Linked DNA regions of Homo sapiens: regions 1 and 3 are each linked to region 2. Evidence: fine-mapped expression QTL. A gene starts in region 2. Each other region holds a variant in brackets. All regions are shown on one strand. Distances are from middle to middle.

The links. PIP is the estimated chance that this variant, and not a neighbour inherited with it, causes the effect. A credible set is the group of variants that fine-mapping cannot tell apart.
Region 1: its variant is the best candidate, but not a certain one, in a credible set for the expression of CLXN in testis (GTEx, PIP 0.87).
Region 3: its variant is the best candidate, but not a certain one, in a credible set for the expression of CLXN in substantia nigra (GTEx, PIP 0.78).

The regions. Positions count from the first base shown.
Region 1 is chr8:48,771,089-48,775,330 of GRCh38, forward strand. No RefSeq gene overlaps it. Among named protein-coding and RNA genes, the nearest start is that of CLXN, 38 kb to the left of the region's middle. The variant C/T (reference allele first, on the strand shown) is at 2,402.
Region 2 is chr8:48,733,246-48,737,487 of GRCh38, forward strand. CLXN (calaxin) reads right to left here and starts at 2,023. Exons shown (of 6, transcript NM_024593.4): 1 at 1,849-2,023. The coding sequence starts at 1,906. RefSeq lists an enhancer at 1,428-2,102.
Region 3 is chr8:48,701,738-48,705,979 of GRCh38, forward strand. No RefSeq gene overlaps it. Among named protein-coding and RNA genes, the nearest start is that of CLXN, 31 kb to the right of the region's middle. The variant GCA/G (reference allele first, on the strand shown) is at 1,792.

The DNA.
Region 1 (4,242 bases), 38 kb after region 2:
CATCCGTGGATTCCTACACAAGAGTTCCTTGATGGGCAAATAGGTAATTATTTACAAGTATGATCACAGATTTCTCAAAGCAGTGTGCCAAGCTACAAGACTCCTTTCTGTAGGAGAAAAAGGAAACTTGTAGGAATAGGAGAAGTGGAAAAAACCATTTCCTGACACCAGCATTTGTAATTAAGCAGAATATTCCATGTTGTTGCAACCAGGATTCCAAGCATTACCTGTTTCAGAGACCCCCAAGGAGTTGCTAGTTGGTTTGTTTGTACATGGTGTGTGGTAGGCACTCAACAAGTGTTTGCTGGTCAACTTTTGGTGGGTCTGGCATTTCTCTTATAGCACCTAGCTATTATAAGGATTCAGAAGGGCAGATACTGCAGATTAATGATGATTTAAAAGCAGCAAAACCCAAAGCTAACCCAGTTTTTCCTTATTATGCTCTTCAAAGCAGTTTTGGTTTGGCTTCAGCATCCCTTAGGGAAGGGGTTTGGATCCAGTCATATTTTATCTGTAATGATTCCCCATCTTAGGTTTGTAGGCAGTGCCTCCAGTCCCTATGGGTATCTCTGCCAGTCTAAACTAAATAGTGCCGATTGTATATTGAAAACATGCACTGGATTTTACAAACCAAGAGAAGCAAGAGAGAGATTTTTAAATTCTCATCAATGCATAAATACATTTAGATTTTTAAAAATAAATAGAATATTTGTCAAGGATCCACCTTAGCTAAGTCAGCATTCACACACTTGTGTGTGTGTGTGCATGCTCCTGTTCCTGTCCATGAGGAAGTGGAGGAAGGGATGGCCCTGAAGACTCTCTGTGATTGGCTTCAGTCACCATTCTGTCTAATTGTTCATTAAAATATCATAGCGCTACCCATAGGGTGAATACCTACATAAATTTCACAGTAGTTTCTTTTTGAAATCTTTCAAACAAGAAAAAGTTGTTTAAGGGCTAAGCCATGTTGCTCAGCAATATTATGTGTTTACATAATTTTATTTATTTTCTTTATTTCACAGCTCCTAGGACTTCAGGCATTAGGATTAATTCATAAGAAAGCTCACTGTGTTTCTCTGAAGTTTATTTTATGGTAGGAGAATATTTTCAATAAATTATGAACTCTGTGAAATGTATATGTAGTTGATGGACATTGAGTATATTTTCACTCTCATTGGATAGTTCTTCTGTCAAAACTTATTTCTTGTCTGAAAGCTACCAATCGGGCAACATTATCGGTACTACCATCTTCCTTACTCTTCACCCCTCCTCCTTAAGTAACAAATGGCTGTCTTTCATCCTTTGCTCTATTAGTTCTAATCAATACCCTAATTATGTAAATGATACTCAGCAGTGTTATCAGAAAGCGACTTGTTAGAGGAAAATTGTTAAGGCATAGATACACAAGGAAAGACAAAATAAACGCTTCAGAATTTTATACAAAGAAACCTTTCTATTCAAATAACAGAGAAAGTAATTTGAACAGCAGGGAGAGTGACAGAAGTTGGGGAAGGGGGCAGAAGATACATACATGTATATATCAGAGAAAAAGAAGGCATAAGAGACATGGGAAAATCCATATATGTATGTATATATATAGGTATATATACATACATATATACACACACACATTATTTTAAAAGATGCTTATAGAATCCATATATTACATTTGTGAATGTCTTTAAAGATTTGAAAAATAACTTTTAGTGAATCTAGAGAATGATGGCTGGGCATGGTGGCTCAGGCCTGTAATCCCAGCACTTTGGGAGGCCAAGGTGGGTGGATCACCTGAGGTCAGGAGTTCGACACCTGCCTGGTCAACATGGTGAAACCCCGTCTGTACTAAAAAAAAAAAAAATTAGCCAGGCGTGGTGGCAGGTGCCTGTAATCCCAGCTACTGGGGAGGCTGAGGCAGGAGACTCGCTTGAACCCGGGAGGCAGAGGTTGTAGTGAGCCGAGATCGCGCCATTACACTCTAGCCTGGGCAACAAGAGGGAAACTCCATCTCAAAAAAAAAAAAAAAAAAAGAAAGAAAAAAAAAGAAAGAAAATAATAGTTCAATTTTACAATAAGAAAAGTGTGCTATAACATAGGTTAAATAAAGTCGCACATGAAGTGTACCTACCCTTATTGAACCTCTTCATGGGTTCCATCTCCTAGCATCATGATTTCGTTATGTTTGCCACCTGCTGTGTAGAATAGCAGATTGTTATTTTGTTCTGCTGTACTGGCATTTAATAAAAAGGCCCATGTTGAATCCATGTAGACTTTCTTTTTTTTATTTTGTTTTTATTTAATTAATTTATTTTTTTTGAGATGGAGTCTCGGTCTGTCGCCCAGGCTGGAGTGCAGTGGCGCCAACTCGGCTCAGGCTCACTGCAAGCTCCGCCTCCCGGGTTCA[C/T]GCCATTCTCCTGCCTCAGCCTCCCAAGTAGCTGGGACTACAGGCGCCCGCTACCGCGCCCTGCTAATTTTTTTTGTATTTTTAGTAGAGACGGGGTTCACTGTGTTATCCAGGATAGTCTCCATCTCCTGACCTCATGATCCGCCTACCTCTGCCTCCCAAAGTGCTGGGATTACAGGCATGAGCCACCGCACCCGGCCCGAATCCATGTAGAATTTCACACCTGAGTGACCTGTGCTTCAGAGCCTGTCAAAGTCCAGGTGACAGACCTTTGACAACTCACCCCAGGGGAGCTTACCTGCACTTTCTCTGTGGCACTGAAGTGTTTGTCCTGGGACCCTGCCTGCTGGTTTCCAGCAGTGTTTGCGTGGCCTGTTTTTCTGTGGTGACACGCATGGACGTATGATTTATACTTGTGGATCACTCCTGCTGCACAGCAGGTGCTATCCAGCCAGCTGCAGCTCTGCTACTTCTGCTCAGAAGCACGTGGGAACACACTGGAGAGGAGAGTGAGTTTACCACAGGGAGAACTGCATACTTTCTAATTTACAGAACTTGGCGATTCTCTACTACTTAACAAAGTTAACAAATAACTTTTGGCACACCTCACAGAGAGGTGACATGCAGTGACCCTTGATTGCTCTGCCTGCACTGTGGCAAACACGGAACCAGAGCCACTGCGCTGCGGGAAGGCAGAGTTCAAGGGGTGGAGGGCGGGGGTTAGAAAAAGCCCTAGGTGAGCCCTCCCTGCTTCCTCCTGCTTCAGCTGGCCAGGAAGGTGACTGAAGCCATCAAAGCCTCTGTTTCCTCATCTGTAAAGTGGGAATACATGACCCCCAACCTCATTAGACTTTTGTGATTATGCAATGAAATGACCAGCTTAAAGCATTTAGCGTGGTGCCTGGCACAGAGTGAATAGCTGATATACCCTAGCTCTATTATTATAGCTAATCTAGCTATCTCATTTGATTGTCTTCCTGAAGAAATGCTTTCAGTAAGTGATGTTTCATCATAGACATCATAAAACTTTACATTCTCAATGTTTTCAAACTTCTTAGCAACAGGATCTATTACTAACAAACAAGATCATTAGAAAATAAAAAGTATAACATTCAAAGACCATAGCTATGATGAAAAGGACAATTTGTGTAGTATTATTCAATAGTGTCTTGAAAGATGCCATCATTTTTACAGTTGGTGTTTTAAAATATCTTTCTATATACAGAGAAGTCGATTACTCTGAAGATTTTTATGGGACCGGTAGCCTTTGTGTTTCTTCCTGCTATAGCTTTCAGACCATCAGCACATAACATTTTTGCCAACTTATTGATTACGTTTTTAAAATTAGCATAAATTCTTAAAATTCTTTCTTCTTTTGTATCCATGTCAAAAGGTTAGCAAAATAGGATATATTCACGTTTGTCTGCATTTGTCTAAAAATGCCAGAAAAAAGAGATCTGTATATTTGTGCTCTTTTGAACTTTGACGATATCACATAATCTTAAATATCAAACTAACTCAATAGGTATTATAATTTTTTTGGAGTATTCATTTTATTATCAGAAAATGACTATATAGCCCTCTACCAACTACCATACTTATTACAATGTCTAAGTAGAGGCTGTAATAATTTTTTAATAAACTGATGCATTTCTTCCTCGAAGGCTACACAGCAAATTGCTTTGAACAACCTCCCAACTCACTTTAAAAAGGTTTGAATTTTGCATATATTTTCAATAATACTAAGTCATTCATTCCTTGTGTGCATAAAAAAGTTAAAAAATATTTTCTTGTCCTCAATATGTTTTATTTCAAGATGCCCCAGCAGAGACCCCAGAACT
Region 2 (4,242 bases):
TTTTTCCATCTCAGCTGAAATAAAAATTTTTAAAAACTAGTTTAATTTATTACCCAAAGGATCAAAGGTTAGCCATAAGAAAACTTTTATTGCTAAACATTTCTTAAATTCTAGAATACAATACTAAATGAAACAAGAAAATTCAAGAATAGGTTTTCATCTTCTTGGAATGCTGTGAATGTGTCCTGCAGAACATATCTGTAGAACAGTGCATGAACTAGATGTTCTCTTAAGATCTTTCACTCTTCTTTGATTCTACAAAATTTATCCATTGAATCTTGATAGCTTTATTGTCTTGCAACTAAAACAAAATTTAACTTTAGGGGAAAGTTCTTCCGTTAAAGAAAATTTAAAATTATTATAATGTCCATGACGTATAACTATTTCTATAGACTTTAACTAATAATCATCTAAGTTTGTAAGACTCATTGAAAATTTTTTAGTAAACAAAAAAATCAAGAGCAGACTTTTTCCTGCCATATTTTTACTTACCTTTAAAAATATACACTCACCTTTTGATTGTTCACAGAATGATTGTCTGCAATGCATTCAAACTTACCGAACAGAGACTAAATCAAATTCAAACTTACGGAAAGGGACAAAATCAGTATTGTGTATAGCAGCTATTGCATTGTTTTTGAATATTTATCAAAAATGTTTACTAGATGTTTACTAGAAGAATACCTATTCTCCCAGAAATGAAAGTGTTTTAAGAAAAACAATAACAGAACAAAACCCTCATCAGAGTATAGTAGTCATAATAATATCTTAAATTACAGGATTTTTTTCCTAAACATTTTAAGATGCGTACACACACCATAATATTCATTTATATCACCATCCACTAAGAGAGCATTTCTTACCAGGTATTAAATCAGATACTAATGATAATTAGAATGCACTAGATCTTACAATCTCTAAAACTACATCAACATGTTTATTCCTTCTTTTTTGAGCGACTCGGTTATTTGGGGGATTGTTGCTTCTGTTTCTTCAAGTGGCCAGTAGTTTTGCAATTAGCACACACAACTTCTAAGTTTGCTCGACAGGAAATTATCTTCCTCATCTAAACCATACCCACGGCTTCCTTGCTAAAGTGCAATTATGTTTTTCAGTCTGAATATAAACTCAAAGTTTCCTATGAAATTCTAGGACCACCCTTTCAAATGCGAGATTAGAGCAGGTGCCTTCAAATAGGGCTCATCTTGTCACCTGCAAAGTCTCCTTTATCTTTCAACACCAGGGGCCACTGGAAAGTGGGAGTCTAAAGTTGGGAACCCATTCTTTACCACGTGTTTAGTTGTGCTGAACTCTGGTTTCCAAACAAATATTGTTCTGAGGCACAGATGAGATGACACAACTCATCTCTCCGAAAGATGTTGAGAAGTTGAGCACCGTTTTCTCCTATGGGTCTCTTGGTAAGCTTCCAGAACTTGGACCTGCGGGTGTATGTGCGAGCTATAAAGCAGGGTGAGTGCACGGTCTACCTTGGTGGTGCTACTTTTCTTGAGACCAGTTGGTTTTAGCATTTATTTTACACCTCATTGAGGCTAACATCACATGTTTCTATCAGGTAAAAGAAGAGGGTTGGAGAAGCAAGTAAATGCATGTGTGGGAGTGTAGGTAGCACCAGAGGCGGAGGCCTGGGTTCCTAAGATCAAACGCAAGGAGCTGGCACCCCGGGATTCCCTCTCTGACTTCTGCTTAAGGGGCCGGGGTGGAGGGGCGGTAGGTAGCCCACAGAGTCCCAGCAGGCGGGAAGCAGGCACAACAGCGGACCTTAGCACGGGGTGGGACCCAGGCTCGGTCCAGGAGCCTCGGCCTGTCCAGCACTACATTCTTACTTACAATGCTTGCAATTTTTGGTTAAGGTGTCCGTCAGCTTCTGCAGTTTCTTGCGGTTCATGTCTGGCGCTCAGAGAATCGGGCCGCGGCGGGGGTCTCTGGGCGCGCGGCTACCGAGACCCTCGCGGGACCCCCGCGAGCCCTGGTGCTGGGTCAACGCGGTGAGGTCTCAGTTACTGATCTCGTGCGCGGCCCTAACAGACGGTGTAGCCAAGGCAACGGCTCAGCCCGCCGCGGATTGGCTCCCAGGCTGCCCGCGACGTAGCCAAAGCTACAGCTGGGCCCCGCCCATCGGCTCAGCGACTGCTCGCGCTGGGTTCTCGGTGCGCGGTGCCGCCGGCAGGGTCCCAGCTGGCCGCCTTGAGGGCTGTATTCTGACTGTTGACGTTGGAGTTTAAATGTTCAGTTGTTGCTGGCTTTTGAGTTCGCAGCCTCTTTGCTTGATTGCAGTGTAAATCATTAAAATCTGAAATGTGGTGTGCACGCTGTATGAGAGGTGTTTCGGGTCGTGAGCGTCACGCCTCAAGGGAAGGCCCAAGATCTTGGACATCTTGGGGGCTGGAGCAGCGTCACAAAATAGCAAGGTGCTGTCCAGAGGACGATCTTGCCGGGCCTCCCGTCAGAGGGCTAGAAGCTTGCTCTTTGGGCGGAGCCACTGCTTAGGTTTTCAGTCTTGGTGAGGTAACAGGAGGCAGTCTGTCACCTGAGGTCTTCGAGCTTTTAGTTGTGTTTCTGAGAGCAAGGGGAAATTGGAATACAGCCACGGGTTGCCTAAGGAGCGGGACGCGTTCCGAGGTCACTAGGAGATTTCATCACTGTGTGCACATCACGGTGCACCGACACAAACCTAGATGGCCTTGCCTACTGCACGCCAGGCTGTATGGTACAACCCATTGCTTCTGGGCTGCACCCCTGCACAGCAGGTCACAGCGCGGAATGCTGCAGGCAGCTAAAACAGAGTGCTAAGCACTCTGGGGAAGGTGCAGTGTTCCAGTACAGTGTTACATCTTATGGGACCACTGTCCTAATGTTGTCTGATGTTGACTTAAATGGCGCTATGTGGCTTGTGACTGTAGTTTTTTTCTTTTCCCACTGCCCTCATCTCACTTCCAAAAGATGGAGGTTGTCTGTGGAATCTGAGGAAAGCCACGAGGAATTTTTATACTGCTTAAATAGGCATTCCCCCCAATGAAAACGGGCTGACAACACCACTTGGGTGTGGGGTACAGCCCAATCTTGCTTTTCCGGAAAATATCTCAGCAACCTTGGTCCTTTACTTATTTGAAAGACAAGTTCTGTGCCGGCAGACAAAGGATATTCCTTACATCTTCAGGGTGGGAGGACTTTCTGCTTTTCCTGATCACAGAGGGGATATCCTCTTTCAGCTAAGGCAGCAATAAAAAGGGGTGGCTCAGCCAGGATCACCAAATCTACAGTATTCTCCAGAGTGCCTGCTCGTTTAACTTCAGAGGGGAAAATGACAAACTATGTTATTGTACACATACTGGCATTTTTAGACTGAAGGCAGAAAAATTCTACTAACCATGAGTAATAATCCCAAATGAAATAATTCCAATGTCGAGGCCTCTGGTTTTTCTTTACTGTTTCATTTGTTTGTGGAATGAAGGATTGGGATGCTGTTTGAAACTAGAGCAAAGGGTGCTTGGTAAAGGCATGGACTGTGTTATCCTAAAGCAAATGTCCTAACAACAGTTACCCGATATGAATTGATGGTGATTATGAGTTTGTAACAGTAGTATTTTTAAATAGTGTTTCTACATATCCCCTTGTCTAGAAGAGTGAAATTCCTGAGACCATAGAGAACAAAAGGGAAAGACTGGACATATTTGAATTATACTTACCTGTGACACCTTATTGATTTCTGTTGGATCACAGAGCTGTAGCAAATACTTAATTCCTAGAGATTGCTGCACTGCTCACTTCAAGAGACAAGGAACCGAAAGAGTGGTTGTCAGTAATTACTAAGAGACGCTGTGGGCTCCCCACCTGATGTACTAGGCCTGTGTTGGGGAGCAGGCCTGCGCTGTTGGTGAGCACATTGGTGGTTATTTCTGGTGGCCTGGGGAGATCGCATACACCGGGTGCTTGCTATAGGTAAGCTAATTAGTTATTCCTTCACGAGTTTAAGGCCTAGAGCCCATCAGCCATGTTCCCTTAAAGTTAAAAAAATAATAAAAAGATGTAGGGGCAATATCACAGATTGTTGAAATTAAAATATGCCGGGCCAAAACTCCTTAACCTGTTGAGCAAACTTTGTAAGTCACCTCCTCCTCTTCCACTTCTTTTATCCTCCAGTTCTTTCTTCCATGCAGTTCTTTTAGCCAAAAAAATCAACCAATCTATCTATCTATCTATCTATCTATCTATCTATCTATC
Region 3 (4,242 bases), 32 kb before region 2:
AAGACAAAGTGCAGTTTGAGAGGAAGAAATTGAGGAGATGGTGTTCAAGGTTTAAAATAATGAAGATGCAGATTGTGGAGGGGAACACGTTCCAAAGGCGGCCAGGTCCATGGGGTGCATGCTTGCTGAGAGGCCCTGGCACTGTAAGGCTCCCACAGATGGTTTGCTACAGGACATTTGTCATTTGCAAAGGAAGAGCTGAATTCTGGGGATGTATGGGGAAATTTCTGAGATTCTAGCATCACGAGTTTGAGCTGAGCATGCTCTTCATTTGTCATCAGTTTAATGCGGGTTTATTATACACCAGACAAGAGCACTGTGGGGAATGTGAGTCCCAGGCCTCATGACATCAAAGTTGATAATAAGTGTGATGCTCTCCCAGGCTGTAACAGATGCCTGGACAACACACTCAGGGTGGCCAGACTTCTTGGCAGAGGCTGGAAGGGCTTCACTGGGGAGGGAGAGCAGAAATTTTCCAGGCAGAAGGGAGAAAAAGGGAAGGAAGTCCATTCCTGCAAGAGACACGGAGGTGTGGGAGTGTGGACAGGCCTAGGGTTGCAGCATCATGGCAAAGGTGACTCAAAGGATCTCCAGAAATCCATTGTCTTTCAGAGAGTTGTAGTGTGTGCCAAAAACCTCAACAGCCTTTCAGAAGCACCAAGTTGCCCTAACACCCTCTCCTAACCTCCTGACTGGCTCAGAACCTATCCTGTCTAAGAATAACAGTGTCTGCTGAGGAAGGGAGAGAGTTTCTCAGTCAGTGTAACATTTACCATATAAATTCCTATTCTGTTGACCTGCACATTTACCTCCTTTGAAAGTTATGGTTTTGTGGTTAGCCGAGTGCTAAAAACCTATAGGTTTCAAACCCCTCATCATTGTAAGTTTACCAGGAGGCTGAAGATGAATAGAATCATCACCCTAGTGAAATCCTTCAGTTACCTATACCTGCAGGGGCTCATCTTAGGAATCATAGAATATCTCATAGCTTAATTTTTAAGTTTCACAATGATGTTTATTTCTTAATGCATTGTCATAGCTTGTTCTAACCTTATCAATGTAATAATCTATTTAAATCAAACCAAACTTATTATACACTTCAGTTTAGTCTGCTTACTTTACTTCCATTTTTTTGAGGATATATTCCAAGTAATAAAATTCCACATGCAGAGTTCAAATAAAGGCATTGAATCAGCCCTTGCTGTTCTCCAGGCAAAGACATGCTTATTCCAGTAACTTTGCCAGGTGTACGAGTGTCTGCAGTTAACCCCCTTTTGTTCTCCAAAGGTCTTGCTTTATCACCCAGCCTGGAGTGCAGCGTTACGGCCTCGGCTTACTGCAGCCACGACCTCCTAGGCTCAGTGATCCTCCCACCTCAGCCTCCCGGGTAGCTGGGATTATAGGCAAGTGCCACCGTGCCTGGCTAATTTTTGCATTTTTCTGTGAGACAGGGTTTCACCATGTTGCCCAGGCTGGTCTCGAACTCCTGGTCTCAAGCAATCCTCCAGCCTCGGCCTCCCAAAGTACTGGCATCACAGGTGTGAGCCAGCACATCCAGCCTACAGGGGCATTTGTAATACCAAATGAAACAGGACCAAAATGAACTGGCTGCTACTGCAGCCATGCACGGATGAGTAGAATGGAGACATCCATTTCTGCTCTTGGTTTCACACAGCACATCAGAGGCTGTCAGAGCTGTAGGCCATAGAGAGTTACCAAGCCCCGCAATTTGTATTTGTTGGGTATACAATGGCGTCACATCTGCTTTCTTGAAAAACAACATTGCCTTGA[GCA/G]CACACACTCCGTTGACATTCAGGTCAAAATAAGTTTTCCACTAATGCTGTGCCGTGGGGTTCAATCCTTCACTCATTCAGCAAATATTGACTGAGTGCCCACTACCATATGGGTAGACAGCACAGAAGAGGACTGACCAGGGCCATGTTTTCATGGATTTACGTTCTATAGAAGGGGAAAAAAAGAGAAACATAAACAGAAAAAAATGCAGCAGGGCATGATATCGGGGTGCATGACTGTGGCCAGCCATGTGCAGTCCCCTCTGTGGGCACAGGTGAGACCTGGTCCTCCCTGAGACCGCACTGACATGGCTTGCCCTAGCAAACTGTGGTGATGGCACGGTTAATGTCACATTTATCTTCTAAAGTGTTGCGAGCTTAACATGTCTTCCTTTTTTCACAAAATAATGGAGGGAAATATTAAATACTGGCCAAGGACTGAAGCCTGTTGCAGGCAGCGAGGGCTGGATTTGAAGGTGTGTAGGGCTCCCTGTCTAACTTTCCCAGACATCAGGAGACAGTGTCACCCTCCTGGGGGAAGAGAGGCTGCCTCAGGACTGGCAGAGTAGTCCCTACCCCGCCTCCTCTGGCACAGGCTCAGCCAGCCCACACCAGCACCCTGGGATCTCCACTGCCTGCCCCACCTCCTCCCACTGCCCCTCACTCTGGAGCTGCCCCTGTGTGTCATCAAAGCCACCAGAGCAGGAGACTCCACACACCACTCCCTCCCTCTTGTCCCCCCACAATGCACACCATCATCTTGCAGCCAGACAATGAGCATAGGACTGCTATTCAGAAAAGCGCGTGGCTTCGGAGGCTCAGGACATGTCCTGACGGCACCTGCAGGTTTTCTTTTCCTGGGGCCACGGGCACTGGCGGTGCTGCACCTGCCGTGGGCCAGCGCCCTGCCTGTCAGCCGCATACCTGGGCGCTGGTGCAGGCCCTGGCCTGCTCCACATCCTGCCCTGCTGCGATTCTGTCTCCCCACTGCACCATCTCTCAGTAGACTCTGTGGAGCAAGGCTGTCCCTCCCAGACTGCTATTTGATTTTCTAGAATCCTGCGGCCATGAAAGGAGAGAGAAACACCGCCCTTTTCGCCTCTCCCTCCCGGCCGCAGGCCAGGGTGAGAGCTTGCTTGCCTCATTCAGTCTGTTGTCAGTCAATTTCTTTCCTTATTATGGTGTTTCAAGAAGCAAACCCATCTCACATATATGGGGTCATGTTGTGTTTATACTAGTGCGTATCTCAGAAGAGAGGTGAAACTCATCGTTTGGTGAAATAGGCATTTGTTGACATGAGAAGGCCAGCGTTCATCAGAACCAACATGTATGCTTTTTATAAAACCAAAGGTTGTGTGCTACTGGATCTTGAAAGATTTATATAATTTTTTCAAGCTCTAAGAGATGTCTGCAGAGATGAGCCTGTTCAGAGAGCCAGGGAGAAGCTGACTCAGAAGTAAGTGGCAGCAAACAACTCTCAGCAGGGGCCTGGCTGAGAGCAGAAGAGGGGCATCCCTGTGGGTGCAGGAGGCCCGTCCTCTGCCCTGGGAGCTGCATCTGGCTCGCAAGGCTGGACTCCAGGGTCTGCAGTCTTCGCCCCTGTGATTTGTTCCTTGGCACTGGAACAATGAGGAAGTTTTGCTAGTAGTGGTGGAGCAGGTGCCACTGACTTTGTGACCATAGCAGTGATTGAAATACTCCAAGTATTCTCCAGTGACAGGAGTGAAAAATCTCGTTTTCTGCTTTATTGGACCTCTTCACACAGGCTGTGCATTTCATCTAGGGTACGAGAATGCTCTGTCCACTGCACAGGTGACAGGCAGTTAAGTGACCATTGTCTAGTCAGTGGATGTCTGCTGGCAAAGGGAGGGAGGTGGTGACAGTGCACTTCAGTGGGGAGGGAGCCTGAGTTTCACCCATGTAGACTAATGTCCTCTCAGCCGGCAAACCCTGCAGGCCCAGAACTCTGTGTGAGTGGCTGGGGCCCCATAACAGGGGCAATGTGGAGAAAAACAGCCAGGAGGGAGGCAGAAATAAACAAGGGGATGTGTGTTAGGGGGAGGAATGTTTTCTTCAGGGACTAAGTGGCAGCATGAGGTGCACAGCAAGCCATAAATTACGGAGGAAGGGGCCACGCCGTGCAGCACCCATGCTGGGGCGATGGCATGCAGACGTGAGAACACATGGCGGGGGGTGGTCTGGCAAGTCCTGGGCCCTCCCCGTGCTGCCCCCAAACTTTCCAGTCAGAGACCCATGTGTGGCAGTGCACTTGTGGGTGAAAGGCGGTGAGGGAAGCCTCCGTCCACTTGATGGGCACAGTGGGGATAAATCTCTTTTTAATATTAGATGTACTGACATGCCTTCCAAAGTAGATAATTCCTCTCTTCCCAGCTGGCAAGCCCACTCGGCTCTCCAGGACCACCGCAGAGGGATGCTGAGGAAGGTGGTC